Linked DNA regions of Homo sapiens. The protein of the gene in region 1 purifies or fractionates together with the protein of each later gene. This does not show direct contact. Each region holds a gene or a part of one and is shown in the gene's direction. Other genes may lie near its edges. The genes, in order: SPDYE4, RSU1, ZNF587B, RPS10-NUDT3, QPCTL, CDK16 and ERCC6L.

What was found.
Region 2: the proteins of SPDYE4 (region 1) and RSU1 purify together in Homo sapiens (affinity purification with mass spectrometry; one large-scale study listed by BioGRID and IntAct). This does not show direct contact.
Region 3: the proteins of SPDYE4 (region 1) and ZNF587B purify together in Homo sapiens (affinity purification with mass spectrometry; one large-scale study listed by BioGRID and IntAct). This does not show direct contact.
Region 4: the proteins of SPDYE4 (region 1) and RPS10-NUDT3 purify together in Homo sapiens (affinity purification with mass spectrometry, with the first as the bait; one large-scale study listed by BioGRID). This does not show direct contact.
Region 5: the proteins of SPDYE4 (region 1) and QPCTL purify together in Homo sapiens (affinity purification with mass spectrometry; one large-scale study listed by BioGRID and IntAct). This does not show direct contact.
Region 6: the proteins of SPDYE4 (region 1) and CDK16 purify together in Homo sapiens (affinity purification with mass spectrometry; one large-scale study listed by BioGRID and IntAct). This does not show direct contact.
Region 7: the proteins of SPDYE4 (region 1) and ERCC6L purify together in Homo sapiens (affinity purification with mass spectrometry; one large-scale study listed by BioGRID and IntAct). This does not show direct contact.

What each region holds. Positions count from the first base shown.
Region 1 is NC_000017.11:8,750,353-8,752,949, reverse strand, and holds the end of SPDYE4 (speedy protein E4), read left to right. Parts: intron 1-712; 3' UTR 713-2,097; downstream 2,098-2,597.
Region 2 is NC_000010.11:16,751,425-16,754,924, reverse strand, and holds part of RSU1 (ras suppressor protein 1), read left to right. Parts: coding exon 1-54; intron 55-1,924; coding exon 1,925-2,007; intron 2,008-2,271; coding exon 2,272-2,386; intron 2,387-3,500. UniProt on the Homo sapiens protein: Potentially plays a role in the Ras signal transduction pathway. Capable of suppressing v-Ras transformation in vitro.
Region 3 is NC_000019.10:57,828,841-57,833,098, forward strand, and holds the start of ZNF587B (zinc finger protein 587B), read left to right. Parts: upstream 1-1,458; 5' UTR 1,459-1,688; coding exon 1,689-1,724; intron 1,725-4,258. UniProt on the Homo sapiens protein: May be involved in transcriptional regulation.
Region 4 is NC_000006.12:34,286,694-34,290,069, reverse strand, and holds the end of RPS10-NUDT3 (RPS10-NUDT3 protein), read left to right. Parts: intron 1-1,138; coding exon 1,139-1,317; 3' UTR 1,318-2,876; downstream 2,877-3,376. Other genes in the region: NUDT3 (diphosphoinositol polyphosphate phosphohydrolase 1), read left to right, coding at 1,139-1,317.
Region 5 is NC_000019.10:45,699,166-45,702,665, forward strand, and holds part of QPCTL (glutaminyl-peptide cyclotransferase-like protein), read left to right. Parts: intron 1-2,632; coding exon 2,633-2,749; intron 2,750-3,500. UniProt on the Homo sapiens protein: Responsible for the biosynthesis of pyroglutamyl peptides.
Region 6 is NC_000023.11:47,225,181-47,228,680, forward strand, and holds part of CDK16 (cyclin-dependent kinase 16), read left to right. Parts: intron 1-591; coding exon 592-686; intron 687-784; coding exon 785-847; intron 848-1,098; coding exon 1,099-1,222; intron 1,223-1,402; coding exon 1,403-1,523; intron 1,524-1,631; coding exon 1,632-1,729; intron 1,730-1,813; coding exon 1,814-1,919; intron 1,920-2,000; coding exon 2,001-2,043; intron 2,044-2,198; coding exon 2,199-2,289; intron 2,290-3,386; coding exon 3,387-3,464; intron 3,465-3,500. UniProt on the Homo sapiens protein: Protein kinase that plays a role in vesicle-mediated transport processes and exocytosis. Regulates GH1 release by brain neurons. Phosphorylates NSF, and thereby regulates NSF oligomerization. Required for normal spermatogenesis.
Region 7 is NC_000023.11:72,204,165-72,208,027, reverse strand, and holds the end of ERCC6L (DNA excision repair protein ERCC-6-like), read left to right. Parts: coding exon 1-3,014; 3' UTR 3,015-3,363; downstream 3,364-3,863. UniProt on the Homo sapiens protein: DNA helicase that acts as a tension sensor that associates with catenated DNA which is stretched under tension until it is resolved during anaphase. Functions as ATP-dependent DNA translocase. Can promote Holliday junction branch migration (in vitro).

The sequences.
Region 1 (2,597 bases):
TGGTGGGCGCCTCTAGTCCCCACTACTCAGGAGCCTGAGGCGGAAGGAACACCAGAGCCCCGGAGGTCGGGGCTGCAGTGAGCTGTGATTCTGCCACTGCACTCCAGCCGGGACGACAGAGTGACACTCTTTCTCAAAAATGAGAATACTACCTAGGTCCAGGGAGGTTCATTATGGTTGATACACTTGAGTTACTGATTTGAGGAAAGGATTCAGTGAAGATTTGGTTGACATCTTGTGCAGCTAACCACATTTAGGACCAAGCATTAGACTAAAACATGAGAGATTAAGGTTGGGGATTAGGAATCTGGTCTGCTGGTTCCTGAGGTTGTCGTGTTAGACATGTTTGTAGCATGGTTAAAAGTTTAGATCTTAAGCAATATAAAGGGCCCCAAGTGTGATGAAGTCCAAAGCCACGTCCTCCAAGGGTGCTCTACTCCCTGGGTGGAGCCACCCAAAGTCCTTGCTATGAAGCAGATCACTGGGGCTAACCTTGGGTATATTAAGTGATTTTTGGAGTCAAGCTCACCAAAGTGTGAGTACCAGAATCAAAAATGATGGTTCAGAATCAGGGTTTACAATAAAGGGTTAGAGATAAAATCAGATTTATATATTGCTCTGAACTCTAGTTAGGATTGATGTGGGATGGGAATAACCTTCCTATCTAGAGATCTCCCTCCTTGAAGTGTGACATCCTCTCTCTCACTTCCAGAACACTGGGCCCAGGGGAGATGGGAATTTTCAGCAGGAAGTTTATCGCGACGCTAATGCCAGACACCAGGAAGGGAGAGAGGAGCCTCCTGTGCAGATCATCTAGAAGAAGCTGGACTCTTCTAGAAGGGGCAAAATAGATTGACCAGGTTTTCCTCCTAGGAGCCATGGAGGTATTTCTAGGAGTCAGTGGAGGGAAAGTGAGAAACCAGGGGTGTTTCTGGTTCCACCCCTTCCTGCGGCAAAACCTCCCTTTTCACGTTGCTGAATCCCAGCCTCCCCTGGGCTGGAAGCTGGAGTTCCTGTTTCCTATGGACTTGGTTGCCACAGTCCAGAGCATTTGAAGGCACAGCGCAGGCACTCAGATTGTTACGGAATTCTTTGTAAAATATGAAATTACTGCCATAGGATTTTAAGAGATAGTTTAATAGATACTGTACATTTTGTTGGTTTATTTTTCAAATGTTGGCCATAGAATTATTACTAGGTTGATTTAAAATAGTTTGGGGTTTTTGTAGTTTTGAAAACATGCTGTTCCTATAGAGTTCTCTGACGGTTGTTATATACACATAAATATAATTTAGTTTTCATTTTTAAGAGAGGATTCTTTTTATCGTAAATGTTTTCTCTTTAAATCGTTTTATCTATTATTAAATGTGCTCCTGAAGCGAGCACTCTTGTAATCTATGATACTGACCTAATATATCCATTATATTTATAGCTAGGTGGTAGTTCCCCTACATTCTTGCAAATAGAAATGTTTATTTTCTGTTTACTGTTTGTTACTGAATTGTGAGAATTCAGTTGTGATTTTTAACATGCCTTCCATATATACTAACATGTCCAATATATACTATACATTTTATTTGTTTATTTTGAAAATGATGGGCATGGCATTATTACTACATTTATTTAACTAGTTTAGAAATACAAGTATTTTTTAAAAGACACTGTTCTTATGAAGTTGTGTGATGGGTGTTACACCTGTTATATACACATAGATATAATTCTGTTTTCATTTTTAAGAGAGGATTCTTTTTATCCTAAATGTTTTATTTTTAAATCTTTTTATCTGTTATTACATGTGCTGCTGAAGGGAGCACTGTTATGACCTAGAGTAGTTACATAATATATCTATTCTATTTATAGCTAGGTGGCATTTCCCCGAAATTCTTGTAAAAATAAATTTTTATTTGATGTTGAGTGTTTGTTTGTTATTGAACTGTGAGAATTCAGACGTAATTTTTTAGCTTGTATTGAAAGGTTTGTATGTTACTTTAAAGAGGACATGTGTTTGAAAGGAGGACAGGAGCTGTGTGTTTCAAAGAGGACAGTGCACTGCGCTACCTGGGAAAATGCAATAAAGATGAAGTTTTCTCATCTTCACAACGACTGTGACCATATTGGTCTGGATTGCTTATTTGTTGTCCAATGACATTTTTGTTTAATGCGGTTTTAGTTATTTGAACAAATCTATTAACCCTGGAAAATAATGCTGAATCTTTTTGTTTGTTTGTTTGTTTGTTTTTGAGATGGAGTCTTGCTCTGTCACCCAGGCTGGAGTGCAGTGGCGCAATCTCAGCTCACTGCAAGCTCCACCTCCTGTGTTCACGCCATTCTCCTGCCTCAGCCTCCCAAGTAGCTGGGACTACAGGCACAGGCCACCATGCTCGGCTAATTTTTTGTATTTTTAGCAGAAACGGGGTTTCACCGTGTTAGTCAGGATGGTCTTGATCTCCCGACCTCGTGAGCCATCCGCCTCGGCCTCCCAAAGTGCTGGGATTACAGGCGTAAGCCACCTCCCCTGGCCCTTTATTTTATTTTATTTTATTTATTTATTTATTTATTTGAGACAAGGATCTTGTCCCATTCCCCAGGCTGAAATG
Region 2 (3,500 bases), on another chromosome or scaffold:
TGACGTACAACAACTTGAGCGAAAATTCTCTTCCTGGAAACTTCTTCTACCTGAGTAAGAAACTTTCAATTCTATAAATCTCCTCAACCTTGTACTTTGCGTTCTGAGAGGGAAATTTATTTGCCAGGACCCAAACTCCAAGAGAAATTATTGGACAGAGATAATTTTTTCTTTAGAGACTCCTTTTGAATATTCCTTCGTAGCTCAGCAGTATGTGCATTTGATAGATCGTTATGTGACACCATTGGGCTGAAGTGGACTTAGTAATGTCATATTAACATTCTGAGAGAGATTATATACCTAAATGAGATCAAGCCTCACATTTAGCTAAGAGACTTGACTTTCTTTTTAAATAGCATGCCAAAAAAAAAAAAAAAAGTATCTTCCTATGTTGCTATTAATTCTTTGTAGGATATTTGCCCAGGATATTCCAACCAATTATTTATTAAAAATATTTATTAATAAACCAGTAACACAATTTTAAAATTTTCCAGCCAGTATTCCTATTTTGAGCCTTTTAAAAAGTACTCTTATTGACCTATTTATCCAGTACACAGGCATTAAGAAATTATTGGCCACAGGTGAACACACTTTATTCTTTCATATGCAAACAAATTTCTTGCTGGAGATGCTTTTGAAAATTAAAAAATGATTTCTTCTGGGAACTCATGCACTATTTTGGACAAGGTTTGCTTCCCTTAAATCAGTGTTCTATTTCTTCAAATAGTAACTTGTGTGGCATTCAGAAAATCTGAATTTTCAGAGCTGATCTCTAAAATTTTATTTTTTACCTTACGTACATTACCTTTCTATGACTTTCTCAAGCACATGAAACCAACTATAAAATATTTTCTTGGGCAGTGGAGCAACTATTTTTATTATGTTATATTAACATGCAGTTCTCGGGAGTATGAGCTACAAAGATCACTTGAGGCTAGGAGTTCAAGACCAGCCTGGGCAACATAGAGAGACCCTGTCTCTAGAAATAAAAATTTAAAAAGTAGCCAGGCATAGTAGCATGAGCCTGTGATCTTAGCTACTTGGGAGGCTGAGGTAGAAAGAGTGCTTGAGGCCAGGAGTTTGAGGCTGCAGTGACCCACTGCACTCCAGCCTAGGTGACAGAGCGAGACTCTGTCTCTAAAAAATAAATACGGGTAAACAAAACATGTATCTAATTATACTCAGCTTTTTTGGTTGAAGATAAACAGATGCTTTAGAATTTTAGCCTTCAGTAGGTTGGAATCGTATTATCATTGTGTAATAATTATGAACAAATTTCTGACTACTGATATTCTCCTTAAGTTAGGATTTACTCTGTTAACTTCATGTCATTATTTTAGCCTCTTTGTCTTCATTTACTTTTGTCCTTAAGGCTGTAGAAACACGTAGTAATAATTAGTCAGATTATGGAACTGATGAGCTGTGGTTATAGCCTCCATCACCAGAAAGCCTTCCATTAATTTGTAACACAGTGCTATTTACATAGGAAAAGGTCTATTTTAACAGAGCTGTATTCTCTTGAAAGAACCCTTTTGCCCTAGGTATCCATAAAAGTGGCACAGTAGTGTTCTTTGTTTTACTTTGGATGCAAATGGAGAAATAAATGTGAATCAAAAGTAATCTATGAGAAGTATAGCAATCTTTTCTGAAAATGTGCTGAAACTCTGTGCCCCAAAATGCTGGCGCCCACAGTTGTTAATTGCGTCATTCCTCTTGGATATAGATGTTTTCCTGGACACACCAGCTACACAATAAGCCAGTAAATCTAAGTTTGACCTGCTTGTTATTATTGGGAGCCCTAGGTATGTCAAAGGCTTTTCACCAAGCCAGGGTTATTAATCAAAGCTGACTCCCTCGTATTGATCAGACCTCAAATGGTTGTGTTCCATGCCACCCTGTTTATATATTGCTGTTTAATTTGCAGCCACCCTGCGTGCACTCTATCTAAGTGACAACGATTTTGAAATCCTGCCGCCAGATATTGGGAAGCTCACAAAGTTGCAGATAGTAAGTAATTTATCTAAATTCTTAGAAAATCAATTCACTGCTGCAGCCTTGTAGGGGTAGAATCAAGTCAATTTGAGCAGGAGTAAGGTTTGTTTTGTGGGAATAAACCACTACTCCTGATAGTGTTTCTTGATTATCCGCCGGCACTTGTAAATACATGGAAAGGATTGAGCTTTAGTAGAAGAGAGGACATAGAGGATGAGAGTTTCTGTGGAGCACCTTTTAATGTGTAAATATGTTGACAACTTGTTTTCTTCTGTTTAGCTCAGCCTTAGGGATAACGACCTGATCTCGCTGCCTAAGGAAATCGGGGAGCTTACCCAGCTTAAAGAGCTCCACATTCAGGGGAACCGCCTCACCGTTCTGCCCCCAGAACTAGGTAAGGTTGCTGATGAATGAACTTAGTTCTGGGTTTCATGAATAACAATTATCCTAATGTAGCAATTCTGAACAACCTCTGTCCTCTTCTTGGCAACTACTCTCCACCTAGGCACACGATGCTGATCATTTGAGAACCATTTGTCATTGACCAGAGTTAGCTGTTACAGGTTTGACCTTCCCGGATCCTGTGTTCTGCAGCTGTAGTGTCCCCTGTCTTAGAAACTGCTGATGAAAGATGACCCCGCTCAGCTCCCTGCGTGATGTAGTGGGAAAAGCATGGGATTAGTAGTAAGAGCCTTATCCCTGGCTCCTCATTGACTAGCTGGGTAAGCTTTCTGGGTCTTGGTTGGTTATTAATAACTTTAAGTATCACTCTTACTTTTTAACCCCTTAAATTTTTATTGACCTGGAAAAACTTTTACCAAATAGTTAAAGTAGTTGTTATGGCTACTTGAACATGTTGATACCTCTGCGGGTCGTGAATTTGCCTCTCTCCTGATCCCATCTCTAGTAGGAATTGTTAAATATGTTCTTGCTGGGAATGGATCCTACTCCTGGCCGCTGAATCCTAATCCTGTTTCTCTGCCAGGTCGTTCCTATTTCCAGGGTGGGTTTATGTCCCCCGCCAGAAATAACCTCCAAGCCAGTAATTCTGTTACTGCTTCGTTCCACTGCAAAAGGTTCACGAGTTCCCTTATCTTTTCTTGTGCAGACCCTCCATAGCCTCTCATTTCTTCAGTCCTTTGAACCACATTGTTTTCTCAAACTGCGATTATTTGCTTTTCTACTCCAAAATACCATCATTTTTAAGAAACACATTGAGGAAGCAGTTCTTTAAACAAGTTTGGCAGTTTGAAGAGGCCATTTGTTAGAAATTAGAATGCAATCACCAGGAGGGCAGGGACATTTTTGTATTTGTTCCCTCGGGTACAGTAGGTGCTCAGAAAACACTGACTGAATGAATTAATGAAGCAAGGACCTTGGATGACAGGACGTTAGGAAGGTTATGAGCAGGCTCATGTGGCTAATGGTTACGCATAGGAAGACTGAGACACAGAGCACGCCTATCAGCACCTTGAGTTCTGTTGGCAGCCATATTAGTCTAAAGGGAA
Region 3 (4,258 bases), on another chromosome or scaffold:
GAGCTCAAGCGATTCTCCCTCCTTCAGGCTCCCTAACCCTAACCCCAACCTTGGGGCAGCTGGGACCACTGGCCTGCCTGACCTCACCCCACTAATATTTTTTATTTTTTGCAGAGACAGGATATGGGGAAAAGAAATCAGATTGTTACTGTGTCTATGTAGAAAAGGAAGCCATAAGAAACTCCATTTTGATCTGTATTAAGAAAAATTGTTCTGCTTTGAGATGCTGTTAATCTGTAACTTTAGCCCCAACCCTGTGCTCACAGAAACGTACTGTATTGAATCAAGGTTTAATGGATTTAGGGCTGTGCAGCATGTGCCTTGTTAACAATATGTTTGCAGGCAGTATGCTTGGTAAAAGTCATCGCCATTCTCCATTCTCTATTAACCAGGGACACAATGCACTGCGGAAAGCTGCAGGGACCTCTGCCTGAGAAAGCCTGGGTATTGTCCAAGGTTTCCCCCACTGAGACAGCCTGAGATATGGCCTCATGGGAAAGGAAAGACCTTACATCCCCCAGCCGGACACCCTTAAAGGGTCTGTGCTGAGGAGGAGGAGTGAAAGAGGGAGGCCTCTTTGCAGTTGAGATAAGAGTAAGGCTTCTGTCTCCTGCTCATTCCTGGGAATGGAATGTCATGGTGTAAAGCCAACCATTCCCATTCGTTGTATTCTGAAATAGGAGAAAACTACCCTGTGGCTAGAAGCGAGATATGCTGGCAGCAATACTGCTCTGTTGCTCTTTGCTACACTGAGATGTTTGTTTAAAGTGAAACATAAATCTGGCCTATGTGCACATCCACGCACAGTACCTTTCATTGAACTTATTCATGATACAGATTCCTTTGCTCACGTGTTTCCCTGCTGACCTTCTCCCCACCATCACCCTGTTGCCCTGCCACACTCCCCTCACCAAGAGAGTAAAAATAATGATCAATAAATACTGAGGGAACTCAGAGACCGGCGCCGGTGAAGGTCCTCACATGCTGAATGTGCCAGTCCCCTGGGCCCACTATTCTTTCTCTATACTTTTTCTCTGTGTCTAATTTCTTTTCTCAGTCTCTCGTCTCCACCTGATGAGAGATACCCATAGGTATGGAGGGGCAGGCCCCCTTCAAACAGGATTTTGCTTTGTTGCTCAGGCTAATCTCTAACTCTTGGCCTCAAATGATCCTTCTGACTTGGCCTCCCAAACTGGTGGAATTACAGGAGCTAGCCACCATACCAGTCAGGGCGCATATCTTAAGGATACTCCTGAGGTGGAGCTGGGCTTTTCCTGCAGAACCGCCTCTGGGAATTGTGCCCTTTACCCTCCTTGTTACCTAGGGAACTACATTACCCAGAAAACTCCGCATGGAATGACAGAGTGGAAGAGCCATGGGGGCTCAGAATAAAGGCATTTCCTGTGTGCACGTGACAATGGGTCCGGACTTCCGGCGCCCTCTGGTGGCGGCCATTTTGATTGGTGTTGGGTTTATTTGTCGGAGAGGCTCCTGAGCGCTAGGTCGGCACTGCGGTGACTGAACCCAGAAGGCGGAGAACAGTTGTCCTCTGCTGCACAGAGGCGACTCTGGAGCTCTGTGACGGCGCCAAGCGTGACCCACCCCTGGGCCAGGATAGGGACCGTCATGCCCATATCTCCTGGCTGGTCACCCTCTCCTCCCAACCCTGCTTTAAACCACGTGGTTCGATGGCGGTGGTGGCCACGCTGAGGCTCTCTGCTCAGGTAATTGTGGTGCCTTCCATGCCCTCAGGTCACCTCATCATCACCCAAAAGCCTGTAGTCTTGCAAGGAAGAGTCTTTAAGGTGGCAGAGCCATAGGCAGCAGATGCTGAGTTTTTATTAGGAGTGACTGTCAGGACAGCCCTTTTGAGCTGCTGAAGGCCTAATCTTTTATAGTCACTGTACCTGAGCGAGTTAGAGAAAACGCCACACTTTGAGACGAATTAAGAGTCCGTTTATTTAAAAAAAAATCCGTTTATTTAGCCGGCGGCCAAGAGATGGGTAACGCTCAAAGTTCTCGCGGCCCCAAAGAAGGGGCTAGATTTTCTTTTATACTTTGGTTTAGAAAGGGGAGGGGGGGTCTAGTTAAAACAATTTTACAGAAGTAAAGTAGGCAAGAAAAGTTAAAAGGATAAATGGTTACAGGAAAGTAAACAGTTCCAGGTGCAGGGGCTTTAAGACTATTAGAAGGTGATAGATGGGGGGCTTTGGGCGTTATCAATCAGACGAATTCCTGGGAACTGCGGATATAGCTCGCCACAGTATCTTATCAGTTAATTGCATTCTTGGATGTGCTGGGAGTCAGCTTGCACAAGTTAAGTCCTTGAGGAAGGGGCTGCCAGTGAAAGAGCCAAGATGGAGTCTGTCTGGCTCTCTTATGTAAGGGAGAGTCAATTCAGGTGGAAACAAGTCTAGGTGATTAAAGGAAAGGGAGAATCTAAAAACAGGGTTAGTAAAAACAAGGTTGGGCATTACATCACAGAATCCTCTAGTGAGAACTGATAGTGGAACAGTGTGCTCGTTGGTGACCTTACCTCGTTAGATGCAGTCTTTATTTTTTATTTTTTTGAGACGGAGTTTCACTCTTGTTGCCCAGGCTGGATGCAATGGCGTGATCTCGGCTCACCGCAATCTCCGCCTCCTGGGTTCAAGCGATTCTCCTGCCTCAGCCTCCCGAGTAGGTGTCATTACAGGCATGCGCCACTGCACCTGGCTAATTTTTTGTATGTTTAGTAGAGATGGAGTTTCTCCATGTAGGTCAGGCTGGTCTCGAACACCTGATCTCAGGTGATTCACCTGCCTCGGCCTCCCAAAGTGCTGGGGTTACAGGCGCGAGCCACCGAGCCCAGCTTATTTTATTTATTTATTTTTTTTTTTTTTGAGACAGAGTCTCAGTCTGTCACCCAGCCTGGAGTACAGTGGCGTGATCTCGGCTCACTGCAACCTCCGCCTGCCGGGTTCAAGCGATTCTCCTGCTTCAGCCTCCCAAGTAGCTGGGATTACAGACACCCGCCACCATGCCCGGCTAATTTTTTGTATTTTTAGTAGAGACGGGGTTTCGCCATGTTGCCTAGCCTGGTTTCGAACTCCCGAGCTCAGGCAATACGCTCGCCTCGGCCTCCGAAAGTGCTGGGATTACAGACGTGAGCCACCGTGCCTGGCTGTCTTTATTTTTTTATTTGTTTACTAAACAAAACATCTTACCCTTTATAGCAGAGTGCCCTGTGAAATACAAATTGTCTTTTTCTTTTTGTTTTTTTTTGAGACAGAGTCTCGCTCTATCGCCCAGACTGGAGCGCAGTGGCACGATCTCGGCTCACTGCAAGCTCCACCTCCCGGGTTCATGCCATTCTCCTGCCTCAGCCTCCCGAGTAGCTGGGACTACAGGCATGCACTACTATGCCCGGCTTATTTTTGCATTTGTAGTAGAGACGGGGTTCCGCCATGTTGGCCAGAATGGTCTCAATCTCTTGACATTGTGATCCGCCCGCCTTGGCCTCCCAAAGTGTTGGGATTACAGGCGTGAGCCACTGTGCCCGGCCAATTCTATTTAATTATTTTAATTTCTTTGCTGAATTTATCTGATAGAATTCTGAATTTTTTCTCCGTGTTTGTCTTGAATTTCTTTGAATTTCCTCAAAATAGCTATCTTGAATTATCTGTCTGAAAGGTCACGTATCTCTGTTTCTCCAGGATTCGTCTTTGGTGCTTTATTTAGTTTGTTTGGTGAGGTCACGTTTTCCTGGATGGTGTTGATGCTTGTAGATATTCGTCAGTGTCTGGGCATTAAACAGTTAGGTGTTTATTGTGGTCTTCACAGTCTGGGCTCATTTGTACCTGTCCTTCTTAGGAAGAGTTTCCAGGTATTTGAAAGGACCCGGGTGTTGTGATCTAAGCTGAATCTACTTTAGCGGGAACCCCACACTCAGTAATGCTGTGACTCTTGCAGACTCAGAGAGCTGTACCACCTTTGTGGTCTTGAATAAGATCTGAAAGATTTCCCTTGATTAACATAACAGGTAGAGACTCTTGTTGGGTCTTCCCTCACTTTGTCCCAGCATGTCTCTGTCAGTGCTGAAGTGCCTGAAACTGGGGGTTGGGACAGAAGCACCCCTTTAGCTACCACCACTGGGACTGTGCTGGGTGAGAGCTGAAGCCAGCACAGCACTGGGTTTCACCCAAGGCTCCTGTGACCACTACATGGCTATCGCCTGTGTTCCCTCAAGGCCCTAGCCCTGTACAGTCAGCAGGTGGCA
Region 4 (3,376 bases), on another chromosome or scaffold:
GGAAAATGGAGCAGGAACACAGCTACCTGAGGCTGCACAGCTCATTGGAGCCATTTATGTGATTGGAGCCCAGCACTTTGGCTTCAGAGTCCTTGTTCCTGACCATAACACTCTAGCAGAGCTGGTCAGGATTCAGAGTACCTGAAAGCATGATCCAATTTTGGTTGTCTCAAGATTGTTTCTTTTTCAAGTATATGAAAAAAGGGCAGTTGTGCTAGGGTATTGAGAGTGGTTTTTTCTGGTTTATAAGATTATGGGTAGTTATTACTTTTATAAGATAAAAAATATAAAGGATTTTAAAGCATGGACTAGAAAAGAGTAAGAAAATAGACTGAAAAATAAAAGTGTGATTGTATTGAGATTATTTTTACTTCTTTTAAGAAATATTTTCTATTATGTAGATAAATTCACTCTTATAAGAAAACTTTTAAATGAATTACTGATTACAAACCAGCCATCCTAGTAATTCTGGAAGCTGATGCTCGTGTTGATTTTTCCCCCCTTGGGACAGGGTCTCACTCTGTCACCCTGCTGGAGTGCAGTGGCGCGATGACAGCTCACTGCAGCCGCGACCTTCCGGGCTCAGGTGATCCTCCCACCTCAGCCTCCTGGGTAGCTGGGAGTACAGGCACATGCTACCATGCCCAGCTAATTTTTGTATTTTTTGTAGAGACAGAGTTTTGCCATGTTGCTCAGGCCAGTCTCAAACTCCTGGGCTCAAGCGATCCGCCCACCTTAGCCTCCTAAAGTGCTGGGATTGTAGGCGTGAGCCACCTCATCCGGCCCTCATGTCAGTTTTTACAGGAGATGGGGATGCTGCTGGGCTTTGATCCCTATGTATGTGCAAGCAAGGAAAGCTCAGAGACGCAGGAGGGCAGGAGGAAAACACTAGCCGTAGTTCTCTCTGGAGGGCAGGTTTTACACAATTACTCTTAGCTCTTTGGTTTTCAGGTTTCTCACCTTTCTGCATTAGACATTGATATAATATTTGAAGCATATGAAGTGTGCTTGAGTTATTTTTGTAAGGAAAAAAAGTGTTAAGAAACATTGCTTTAATGTTTTCTATATTTTCTCAAAAGTTCTAGGCTCAGAAACCTTATTACTCTTGTACTAGTTTCTTTTCTCTCTGCCTCCACAGGAAGGAAGAGGGAATGGTTTAAAATAGAAGACGCCATAAAAGTGCTGCAGTATCACAAACCCGTGCAGGCATCATATTTTGAAACATTGAGGCAAGGCTACTCAGCCAACAATGGCACCCCAGTCGTGGCCACCACATACTCGGTTTCTGCTCAGAGCTCGATGTCAGGCATCAGATGACTGAAGACTTCCTGTAAGAGAAATGGAAATTGGAAACTAGACTGAAGTGCAAATCTTCCCTCTCACCCTGGCTCTTTCCACTTCTCACAGGCCTCCTCTTTCAAATAAGGCATGGTGGGCAGCAAAGAAAGGGTGTATTGATAATGTTGCTGTTTGGTGTTAAGTGATGGGGCTTTTTCTTCTGTTTTTATTGAGGGTGGGGGTTGGGTGTGTAATTTGTAAGTACTTTTGTGCATGATCTGTCCCTCCCTCTTCCCACCCCTGCAGTCCTCTGAAGAGAGGCCAACAGCCTTCCCCTGCCTTGGATTCTGAAGTGTTCCTGTTTGTCTTATCCTGGCCCTGGCCAGACGTTTTCTTTGATTTTTAATTTTTTTTTTTTATTAAAAGATACCAGTATGAGATGAAAACTTCCAATAATTTGTCCTATAATGTGCTGTACAGTTCAGTAGAGTGGTCACTTTCACTGCAGTATACATTTATCTACACATTATATATCGGACATATAATATGTAAATAAATGACTTCTAGAAAGAGAAATTTGTTTAATTTTTCAAGGTTTTTTTCTCTTTTAATTTGGGCATTTCTAGAATTGAGAGCCTCACAATTAACATACCTTTTTGTTTTCGATGCTAGTGGCTGGGCAGGTTGCCCTGTCCTTTCTCTATTTCCCAGTCATTGACTGTAGATATGGGAAGAGTTTAGCTACCTTCATAGTGCTCCCAGGACTCATGGCCTTTCCTTCTTTAAGCTGTATTTCCCTGCCCAGAAAGAAACAGGAAGAAACCTTTTTTTATTTTTTTATTTTTTTTTAACCAAGCAAGGAGCAAATGGCCTCAGCCCAGATCTGTAAAAACAATGATAGAAATTGAATTCTGCCCCACATGTTGACAGTAGAGTTGGAACTGGATTCTTGGGATTACTTATCTAAAAAACTGGAGCATCAGGTCCATTTCTGTTCTGCTGGTTTGGAATCTTTTCCGTAATGCTATTTATTGCCAACAATGGCCTCTCTTTGTGTCCATATATGCCTTACACCGTGCTGACCTGGGTATCATCCATGTGCTCTGAAGCATCCAACTTTACTTTGCAGGTGCATCAATGTAGTCCTGTCCCTGAACTGAGTAACCGTGTTCCTGAAAAGTACACTAGGGAAATTCACCTGCTTGCTTGTCTTTGTATTGGCATGGCACTTGTGATTGCACCATGGAGCATGCTCAGAGCTATTAAATTGGTCTCCCATCTCCCACCAGGATATGAAAGGTCCATATGGGAGGCCACGTAATCACTTATTACAGTGGTTACATAATACACTGGCTCACTGCAGACTCTCTTGTTTTTTGATACAGTTTCGTGCTGGCTTCATTTGCCAATTGTGTTGTTTAGTTCGGAAGTAAGAGGGTCTTGAGATTGAGGGGTAGGGAGGGCTACACTGACTGATCCGTGGCTTAAGACAGGAGATTATCTCTGTACTCCAGTGGCATCTCCTTAGCCAAGATGTGAAATTAAAATCATAGTTCGCCTCATTTAAAAATTCTAATAAAGCACTCAAACTTTGAAAAGCTTTTACTTTTCCCTCCTACTAAAAGAAATGTATGTACCTCATAGCCCTGTGTCATTTAGTGTTCAGCACTTTTGGGAACATCAGTTGGTGAACTTTAAATTTTGCTGTCTACTCACTGGGCACGGTGGCTCACACCTGTAATCCCAGCACTTTGGGAGGCTGAGGCAGGTGGATCACCTGAGGTCAGGAGTTTGAGACCAGCCTGACCAACATGGTGAAACCCCGTCTCTACTAAAAATGCAGAAATTAGGTGGGCGCCTGTAATCCCAGCTACTTGGGAGGCTGAGGCGAGATAATCGCTTGAACCTGGGAGGCAGAGGTTGCAGTGAGCCGAGATTGCACCACTGTCGTCCAGCCTGGGTGATAAGAGTGAAACTCCATCTCAAAAAAAAAAAAAAAAAATTTTTTTTTTTTTTTTTGCTATATACTCTTAGTTTACATCCTCTCCCCCAATCTTCACACACAGAGCCAAAGAGCAGTTATATTCTTGGGATACCA
Region 5 (3,500 bases), on another chromosome or scaffold:
TGGGACTACAGGCGCATGCCACCATGCCCAGCTAATTTTTGTATTTTAGTAGAGACAGAGTTTCACTATGTTGGCCAAGCTGGTCTTGAACTCCTGACCTCGTGATCCGTCCACCTCAGCCTCCCAAAGTGCTGGGATTACAGGCGTGAGCCACCGTGCCTGGTGACCCCATCTCTTAAAAAAAAATTAGCTGGGTGCAGTGGCATGCACCTGTCATCCCAGCTACTGGGGAGTATCCTTAGAGCCTGGGAGGTCAAGGCTATAGTGAGCCAAGATTGCGCCACTGCACTCCAGCCTGGGCAACAGAATGAGATCCTGTCTCAAAAAAATAAAAAATAAAAATAAAATAAAGGCTGGGCTTGGTGGCTCACACCTGTAATCCCAGCACTTTGAGAGGCAGGTGGATCACTTGAGCTCAGGAGTTTCAGACCAGCTTGGGCAATATGGCGAAACCCTGTCTCTACAAAATAAAAACAAACATTAGGCCAGGCGCGATGGCTCACACCTGTAATCCCAGCACTTTGGGAGGCCAAAGCGGGTGGATCACCTGAGGTTAGGAGTTTGAGACCAGCCTGGCCAACAGGGCGAAACCCCATCTCTACTAAAAATACAAAAAGTTAGCTGGGCGTGGTGACATGTGCCTGTAATCCTAGCTATTCGGGAGGCTGAAGCAGGAGAATGGCTTGAACCTGGGAGGCGGAGGTTGCAGTGAGCCGAGATCACGCCACTGCACTCCAGCCTGGGCAACAGAGCGAGACTCCATCTCAAAAAAAAAAAAAAAAAAAATTAGCCAGGCATGGTGGCACCTGCCTGCAGTCCCAGTGACTTGGGAGGCTGAAGTGGTAGGATCACTTGAGTCTGGGAGGTCGAGGCTGCAGTAAGCTGTGATCACACCACTGCACTCCAGCCTGGGGACAGAGTGAGACTCTGTCTCAAAAAAAAGTAATAATAAAAATTAAAATTAAAAAAATTAAAAATTGTTTTTAAAAATAAAGGCTTGGCTGGGCGCAATGGTTCACGCCTGTAATCCCAATACTTTGGGAGACTAAGGTAGGTGGATCACAAGGTCAGGAGTTTGAGACCAGCCTGGCGAATATGGTAAAACCCTATCTCTACTAAAAATACAAAAATTAGCTGGGTGTGGTAGCGTGTGCCTGTAGTCCTAGCTACTCCGGAGGCTCAGGCAGAAGAATCGCTTGTACCTGGGAGCACAGGTTGCAGTGAGCTGAAATTGTGCCACTGCACTCCAGCCTGGGTGACAGAGCGAGACTCTGTCACTAAATAAATAAATAAATAAACAAATAAATAAATAAGAAAATAAAATAAAGGCTCACCCAGCCTTTCCTCTACCTCCCTAGCCTTTCTAAGGAACTAGAGATTAGTAATAGTGATTACCAGACAGGGGCTCTAAGGTGAGACAGCCGTGGTTTCCAATCTTACCAGCTGGATGAACTTGGACAAGTGGCTTCATTTCTTTGAGCCTCAGTTTCCTATCTGTAAAACGGCCAGTGGGGGCCGGGCCTGGTGGCTCATGCCTGTAATCCCAGCACTTTGGGAGGCCGAGGTGGGCGAATCACAAGGTCAGCAGTTCGAGACCAGCTTGGCCAATATGGTGAAACCCCATCTCTACTAATAATACACAAATTAGCTGGGTGTGGTGGTGGGCGCCTGTACTCCCAGCTACTCAGGAGGCTGAGGCAGGAGAATTGCTTGAACCCGGGAGGCGGAGGTTGCAGTGAGCCGAGATTGTGCTACTGCACTCCAGCCTGGCGACAGAGCAAGACTCTGTCTCAAAAAAAAAAAAAAAAAAAAGGCCGGAGGGCCCAGACATAGTGGCTCATGCCTGTAGTCCCAGAAATTTGAGTGACCAAGGCAGGAAGATCACATGAACCCAGAAGTTTGAGGCCAGCCCGGGCAACACAGGAAGATCCCATTTCTACACACACGCGCACACACACACACACACACAATTACCCAGGCATGGGGGCATGCGCCTGAAGTCCTAGCTATTTGGGAGGCTGAGACTGAAGGATCACTTAGGCCAGCGAGATTAAGGCTGCACTGAGCTGGGATTGTCCCACTGCACTCCAGTGTGGGTGAGAGAGCAAGATCTTTTTTTTTTTTTTTGGAGACAGAATCTTACTCTGTCACCCAGGCTGGAGTGCAGTGGTGCAATCTCAGCTCACTGCAACCTCCACCTCCCAGGTTCAAGCAATTCTCCTGCCTCAGCCTCCCAAGTAGCTGGGATTACAGGCGCCCACCACCACACCCAGCTAATTTTTGTATTTTTAGTAGAGACAGGGTTTCACCATGTTGGCCAAGCTGGTTTCGAACTCCTGACCTCAGGTGATCCACCTGCCTTGGTCTCCCTAAGTGCTGGGATTACAGGCATGAGCCACCACACCAGGCCACAAGATCTTGTCTCAAAAAAAAGAATGTCTATGTCTTAGACTCTGAGGGATTGAATGAGACCAGGAACATAGTGAGCCCACAGGAAGGAGTAACTGGCATTCACTCTTGTTGGGCTGACCAGGGCTTTGTCTCTGGGTGCTCTGCCTTCCTCTGATTTGTGGACTGGGGACCTTCGACTACTAAGGACTAACCCTTCCTCTCTAATCGCCCCCACTTCCAGAGAAGCGTCTGCACCGTTTGAACCTGCTGCAGTCTCATCCCCAGGAAGTGATGTACTTCCAACCCGGGGAGCCCTTTGGCTCTGTGGAAGACGACCACATCCCCTTCCTCCGCAGAGGTACCAGCTGCAGGGAGGGATGGAGGGTGGGTGTCCAAGGAAGCCACAAATTGGAACTGGCCAAGTCCCCTTCCCAGGGCTGGGGAATGGTGCTAAGTGGCCTTAACCTCTTTGTGCTTTGATTTATTCATCTGTAAAATGGGGATAATACTCCCTATCTTAGAGTATTGTTGAGGGGATTGAACATGCTAACACCGGTAAAGACCTTACTTGGACCAGCACCCAGCACATAGCAAGCATTCCAGAAATGTTTGCAGCTGGGCACGGTGGTTCACAGCTGTAATCCCAGCACTTTGGGAGGCTGAGCGGGGTGGCGGGGGGGGATCCTTGAGCCCAGGAGTTTGAAACCAGCCTGGGCAACATGGCATAAATCTTGTCTTTACTAAAAATACAAAAAAATTAGCCGGGCATGGTGGTTCACACCTATAGTCCCAGCTACTCGAGAGGCTGAAGTGGGAGGAGCACTTGGGCCTGGGAAGTCAAGGCTGCAGTAAGCCTTGATTGAGCCACTGCACTCTAGCCTGGACAACAGAGGGTGATGATATCTCAAAAAAAAAAAAAGTGCCAGGCTGGGCATGGTGGCTCACACCTGTAATCCTAGCACGTTGGGAGCCTGAGGCGGGCAGATCACCTGAGGTCAGTAGTTTGAGACCAGCCTGGCCAACATGATGAAACCCCATCTCTACTAAAAATACAAAAATTAGACAGGTGTCGTGGTGCCTGCCTATAATCCCAGCTACCCGGGAGGCTA
Region 6 (3,500 bases), on another chromosome or scaffold:
TGGTTCTAAGACCCCCCAAAACACTCTGGCTTTCATGGGAATGCCTGTCACCCACATATCCAGGTAATAATCAGGGTAACCAGGAATCTGTTCCCATTTGGATAAAAGGTAGATGAATTGCAAACCAGGGTTTGGTTCTGAGAACACCCCTGAAAGTGCTCACCAGTTTATTTACTGTAACAATTTCTAGTCAGAATATCACATGGAATGAATTTGAATTGCACTGAAATTTAGTGTGCAAATTCGATTTCACGCGATGCTGCAGGCCTATGTACTGAGGGTTGGAGCCAGGCCCCTTCCCAGAAACCAAAAACAGGTTGTGAAAATCTAGTGTCACATGAGCCTGGGGCTGCAATCCCAGGTTCTTGCTCCATACTCTCCTCTGAGTCTTATTTTCCACATCTGCAACATGGAGACACAACTTTCTTCTGGCATGAGGCGGGTTAGAGCTGGTGGCTCCGAGGCATTACCCTGAACTGTCTAGAGAAAGAAAGAAAACCTGGGCTTGTCCCTTTCTAGTCCTTGTCCTCACCTCTGTCCTGAGGGTAGGACCCTGACTCTTCCCCTGTCCCACTCCCATGCTTCCTGCAGTGTCCCTGCTCAAGGACCTCAAACACGCCAACATCGTTACGCTACATGACATTATCCACACGGAGAAGTCCCTCACCCTTGTCTTTGAGTACCTGGTAAGGTTGAGTGGCAGTAGGTCCCAGGGGGAGGTGAGGAGAAGGCCAGGAGCCATAGGAAGTAACCCTCATTCCTGTACCACCTCTTCTTTCCTCAGGACAAGGACCTGAAGCAGTACCTGGATGACTGTGGGAACATCATCAACATGCACAACGTGAAAGTGGGTGTGGGGCAGGAAGCAGGGGCACAAGGGGGCCCCCACTCACCCACTCCAACCCACAAATCTCCCAGAAACGGACTTTTCCCTTTGGCTTTTTTTGCTAGGAGCCCTTGGAGGGCACTGGGACCCTGTCCTCTTTTGTGTGACAAGGCTCTGGGCCTAGTGTCTGTGTTTGGGAGGGGAGCAGTGCCTGCTGGGGGTCGGGCTAGTGGATAGTCTTTGACCTCTGCCTGCCATTCCTGGGTCCCCAGCTGTTCCTGTTCCAGCTGCTCCGTGGCCTGGCCTACTGCCACCGGCAGAAGGTGCTACACCGAGACCTCAAGCCCCAGAACCTGCTCATCAACGAGAGGGGAGAGCTCAAGCTGGCTGACTTTGGTACCACTGGCCTCCCCTTTCTTATTGGCTCCCCAGCCTCCTACTTTCCCATGACCACTTAGTCTCACTTCCCTTCAGCCTTGCCAGATTTTGCCTAGGACACCCTCAGTCTCAACTGCACTCTCCCCGAGACTTTGCCCATGACTCCCTCATTCTAGCTGTCCTTTCTCTGATTTCCAGGCCTGGCCCGAGCCAAGTCAATCCCAACAAAGACATACTCCAATGAGGTGGTGACACTGTGGTACCGGCCCCCTGACATCCTGCTTGGGTCCACGGACTACTCCACTCAGATTGACATGTGGTAAGGACAGGTGGAAGTGTGGCAGGGGCCATGTGGTAAAGGGGGTGGCTTGGTCACAACAGCCACCCAGCCAGCTGCCTTTCTATTCACTGTGCCCTCCCTGCCCAGGGGTGTGGGCTGCATCTTCTATGAGATGGCCACAGGCCGTCCCCTCTTTCCGGGCTCCACGGTGGAGGAACAGCTACACTTCATCTTCCGTATCTTAGGTGAGGAGGCATGGGCCCTAGGCGCTGTGGAGACACACGGGGAGGACCTGTGAAATGTTTGGGATAACTCCTCTTCCCTACTAGGAACCCCAACTGAGGAGACGTGGCCAGGCATCCTGTCCAACGAGGAGTTCAAGACATACAACTACCCCAAGTACCGAGCCGAGGCCCTTTTGAGCCACGCACCCCGGTGAGGCTGGTGGGTGGGTGGGCGTTAGGGGCCAGAGTGTCCAAACTCATTTTAAATCAGGTCTCTTTGTCCTTGTGGCAGACTTGATAGCGACGGGGCCGACCTCCTCACCAAGCTGTTGCAGGTGAGACCACCTTGGGTCAGCCTTGGGGGTATGGGATTCCAAGTGTGGGGAAACAGGGACCCCCCCCCTCAAACCAGGGGCAGGGTCTGAGGTGGGCAGAGAGACCTACTTGTTGAAGATATCAATACTATCCCCCTCCCCGCACCCCCACTCAGTTTGAGGGTCGAAATCGGATCTCCGCAGAGGATGCCATGAAACATCCATTCTTCCTCAGTCTGGGGGAGCGGATCCACAAACTTCCTGACAGTGAGTGGAGCTGGGGAATGGACCGGCCAGCGTGGGGACTGGGAAACAGGACTGCTGGGGCCAGCTGGCGGGTTGTGTAGGATTCTGGCTGTGCCACCTCTACGTGGGGGGACATCTTGTTCACGTGTGTGATGGGTTGTATTTGTTATGAAAACATTTTTTAGTTTTCAGTTCCTTTTACCTTTCATGAAAAATTTAAAACATACATAAAAATATATGCAATAGCACTTTACTTTTTTTAAAGTAGACATTTCCTTACATGTGCTAAAAAATGCACAAATCATAAGTATACTATACAATGAATTTTCATAAATGAAACACATCCTTGTAACTAGCACAAAAGTCAAGAAACAGAATGTTAAAAGCTCCCCACCCCCAGCTCCCTTGCATCTCCTTCAGTTATTCCCAGCCCCTTCCCAAAGGGTGGCCACTGTTTTGACCTCTAACAGCAAGGATAAGTTTTTTCTGTCCTTGTACTTTATAGAAATAGAATCACATGTGATGTTCTTTTTATATCTGGCTTTTAAAAACTTTTTAATATGGATATTTTCAAATATATGTATTTATATATTAGTCAAAGTAATATGATGAGTCCCTAAGTACTCCAGTGAGTCATCAATTCATGGTCAATCTGGTTTTATCTATATTCTCTCTGATTATTTTGAATCACATCCAATCCCAGACATCATAGCATTTATCCTTAAATAATTTCAGCATATACCTATAAAAGATTTTTTTAAAACAACAATATTATTATCAAACCTACAAAAAACATTTGCTCACTTTCCCTATCTTCCCACTGGATTAATATATAAAGCAAACCCCAAACACCACCCATCACCTAGACTTAACAGGTGGTAATTGCAATACCATAATTCACTTGACAAAGTTAATAATGATTTCTTTGTGTCATGTAATAGTCTATATTTCATCTTCCCTGGTTGTAGCTGGTTTGTGTATGGAATTGTTTGACAGATAAAGGTCAAGCCTCTCAGAGAAGGGGCAGCTTTTTCTAATTCTTCCCATGGGGTCATATGGGGCTGGTCCTAGATGACCTCATGGGTCATCCCCCACTTCTATGTCTCCCCCATCTGTAGCTACTTCCATATTTGCACTAAAGGAGATTCAGCTACAAAAGGAGGCCAGCCTTCGGTCTTCGTCGATGCCTGACTCAGGTAGGTATAGCCCCTTGTCTTCCTCCCTGCCCCACC
Region 7 (3,863 bases), on another chromosome or scaffold:
TTCCTGCAAGTAATCGCCTCCTCCTCACAGGAACCCCAATCCAGAATAATTTACAAGAACTATGGTCCCTATTTGATTTTGCTTGTCAAGGGTCCCTGCTGGGAACATTAAAAACTTTTAAGATGGAGTATGAAAATCCTATTACTAGAGCAAGAGAGAAGGATGCTACCCCAGGAGAAAAAGCCTTGGGATTTAAAATATCTGAAAACTTAATGGCAATCATAAAACCCTATTTTCTCAGGAGGACTAAAGAAGACGTACAGAAGAAAAAGTCAAGCAACCCAGAGGCCAGACTTAATGAAAAGAATCCAGATGTTGATGCCATTTGTGAAATGCCTTCCCTTTCCAGGAAAAATGATTTAATTATTTGGATACGACTTGTGCCTTTACAAGAAGAAATATACAGGAAATTTGTGTCTTTAGATCATATCAAGGAGTTGCTAATGGAGACGCGCTCACCTTTGGCTGAGCTAGGTGTCTTAAAGAAGCTGTGTGATCATCCTAGGCTGCTGTCTGCACGGGCTTGTTGTTTGCTAAATCTTGGGACATTCTCTGCTCAAGATGGAAATGAGGGGGAAGATTCCCCAGATGTGGACCATATTGATCAAGTAACTGATGACACATTGATGGAAGAATCTGGAAAAATGATATTCCTAATGGACCTACTTAAGAGGCTGCGAGATGAGGGACATCAAACTCTGGTGTTTTCTCAATCGAGGCAAATTCTAAACATCATTGAACGCCTCTTAAAGAATAGGCACTTTAAGACATTGCGAATCGATGGGACAGTTACTCATCTTTTGGAACGAGAAAAAAGAATTAACTTATTCCAGCAAAATAAAGATTACTCTGTTTTTCTGCTTACCACTCAAGTAGGTGGTGTCGGTTTAACATTAACTGCAGCAACTAGAGTGGTCATTTTTGACCCTAGCTGGAATCCTGCAACTGATGCTCAAGCTGTGGATAGAGTTTACCGAATTGGACAAAAAGAGAATGTTGTGGTTTATAGGCTAATCACTTGTGGGACTGTAGAGGAAAAAATATACAGAAGACAGGTTTTCAAGGACTCATTAATAAGACAAACTACTGGTGAAAAAAAGAACCCTTTCCGATATTTTAGTAAACAAGAATTAAGAGAGCTCTTTACAATCGAGGATCTTCAGAACTCTGTAACCCAGCTGCAGCTTCAGTCTTTGCATGCTGCTCAGAGGAAATCTGATATAAAACTAGATGAACATATTGCCTACCTGCAGTCTTTGGGGATAGCTGGAATCTCAGACCATGATTTGATGTACACATGTGATCTGTCTGTTAAAGAAGAGCTTGATGTGGTAGAAGAATCTCACTATATTCAACAAAGGGTTCAGAAAGCTCAATTCCTCGTTGAATTCGAGTCTCAAAATAAAGAGTTCCTGATGGAACAACAAAGAACTAGAAATGAGGGGGCCTGGCTAAGAGAACCTGTATTTCCTTCTTCAACAAAGAAGAAATGCCCTAAATTGAATAAACCACAGCCTCAGCCTTCACCTCTTCTAAGTACTCATCATACTCAGGAAGAAGATATCAGTTCCAAAATGGCAAGTGTAGTCATTGATGATCTGCCCAAAGAGGGTGAGAAACAAGATCTCTCCAGTATAAAGGTGAATGTTACCACCTTGCAAGATGGTAAAGGTACAGGTAGTGCTGACTCTATAGCTACTTTACCAAAGGGGTTTGGAAGTGTAGAAGAACTTTGTACTAACTCTTCATTGGGAATGGAAAAAAGCTTTGCAACTAAAAATGAAGCTGTACAAAAAGAGACATTACAAGAGGGGCCTAAGCAAGAGGCACTGCAAGAGGATCCTCTGGAAAGTTTTAATTATGTACTTAGCAAATCAACCAAAGCTGATATTGGGCCAAATTTAGATCAACTAAAGGATGATGAGATTTTACGTCATTGCAATCCTTGGCCCATTATTTCCATAACAAATGAAAGTCAAAATGCAGAATCAAATGTATCCATTATTGAAATAGCTGATGACCTTTCAGCATCCCATAGTGCACTGCAGGATGCTCAAGCAAGTGAGGCCAAGTTGGAAGAGGAACCTTCAGCATCTTCACCACAGTATGCATGTGATTTCAATCTTTTCTTGGAAGACTCAGCAGACAACAGACAAAATTTTTCCAGTCAGTCTTTAGAGCATGTTGAGAAAGAAAATAGCTTGTGTGGCTCTGCACCTAATTCCAGAGCAGGGTTTGTGCATAGCAAAACATGTCTCAGTTGGGAGTTTTCTGAGAAAGACGATGAACCAGAAGAAGTAGTAGTTAAAGCAAAAATCAGAAGTAAAGCTAGAAGGATTGTTTCAGATGGCGAAGATGAAGATGATTCTTTTAAAGATACCTCAAGCATAAATCCATTCAACACATCTCTCTTTCAATTCTCATCTGTGAAACAATTTGATGCTTCAACTCCCAAAAATGACATCAGTCCACCAGGAAGGTTCTTTTCATCTCAAATACCCAGTAGTGTAAATAAGTCTATGAACTCTAGAAGATCTCTGGCTTCTAGGAGGTCTCTTATTAATATGGTTTTAGACCACGTGGAGGACATGGAGGAAAGACTTGACGACAGCAGTGAAGCAAAGGGTCCTGAAGATTATCCAGAAGAAGGGGTGGAGGAAAGCAGTGGCGAAGCCTCCAAGTATACAGAAGAGGATCCTTCCGGAGAAACACTGTCTTCAGAAAACAAGTCCAGCTGGTTAATGACGTCTAAGCCTAGTGCTCTAGCTCAAGAGACCTCTCTTGGTGCCCCTGAGCCTTTGTCTGGTGAACAGTTGGTTGGTTCTCCCCAGGATAAGGCGGCAGAGGCTACAAATGACTATGAGACTCTTGTAAAGCGTGGAAAAGAACTAAAAGAGTGTGGAAAAATCCAGGAGGCCCTAAACTGCTTAGTTAAAGCGCTTGACATAAAAAGTGCAGATCCTGAAGTTATGCTCTTGACTTTAAGTTTGTATAAGCAACTTAATAACAATTGAGAATGTAACCTGTTTATTGTATTTTAAAGTGAAACTGAATATGAGGGAATTTTTGTTCCCATAATTGGATTCTTTGGGAACATGAAGCATTCAGGCTTAAGGCAAGAAAGATCTCAAAAAGCAACTTCTGCCCTGCAACGCCCCCCACTCCATAGTCTGGTATTCTGAGCACTAGCTTAATATTTCTTCACTTGAATATTCTTATATTTTAGGCATATTCTATAAATTTAACTGTGTTGTTTCTTGGAAAGTTTTGTAAAATTATTCTGGTCATTCTTAATTTTACTCTGAAAGTGATCATCTTTGTATATAACAGTTCAGATAAGAAAATTAAAGTTACTTTTCTCAAGTGTTTTCCATCCACTTTGTTTCACTGAGATGATACTGGCAGATCTTAAGATATGCTTGTGAACATGCTGTTTCATGCTTTCAGCTTAATACAGGTTGAGCATCCCTAATCCAATCCAAAATGGGGAAAATTTCTGAGTGCTGACATGATGCCACAAGTGAGGAAAGTTCCATACCTGATGTCATGTGACATGTCACAGTCAAAATGAAGGTGTATAACACACTGTTTACTCAGCATCCCCAAGAGAAAAGAGATTCTGTTAGACCCCTTCAGCTACTATATATCCTTTCCACACAGGCCCAGATTCTCCCATGCAAGCCTGCCTACAAAGGGTAATAAAATGGTTCAACATACACAAACTTTGTTTCATGCACAAAATCGTTAAAAGTAATTATAAAATTACCTTCAGACTATGTATATAATGTGTGTATGAAACATAAATGGATTTCATGTTTAGACTTGGATCCCATCTCCAAAATATCTCATTATGTGTATGGAAA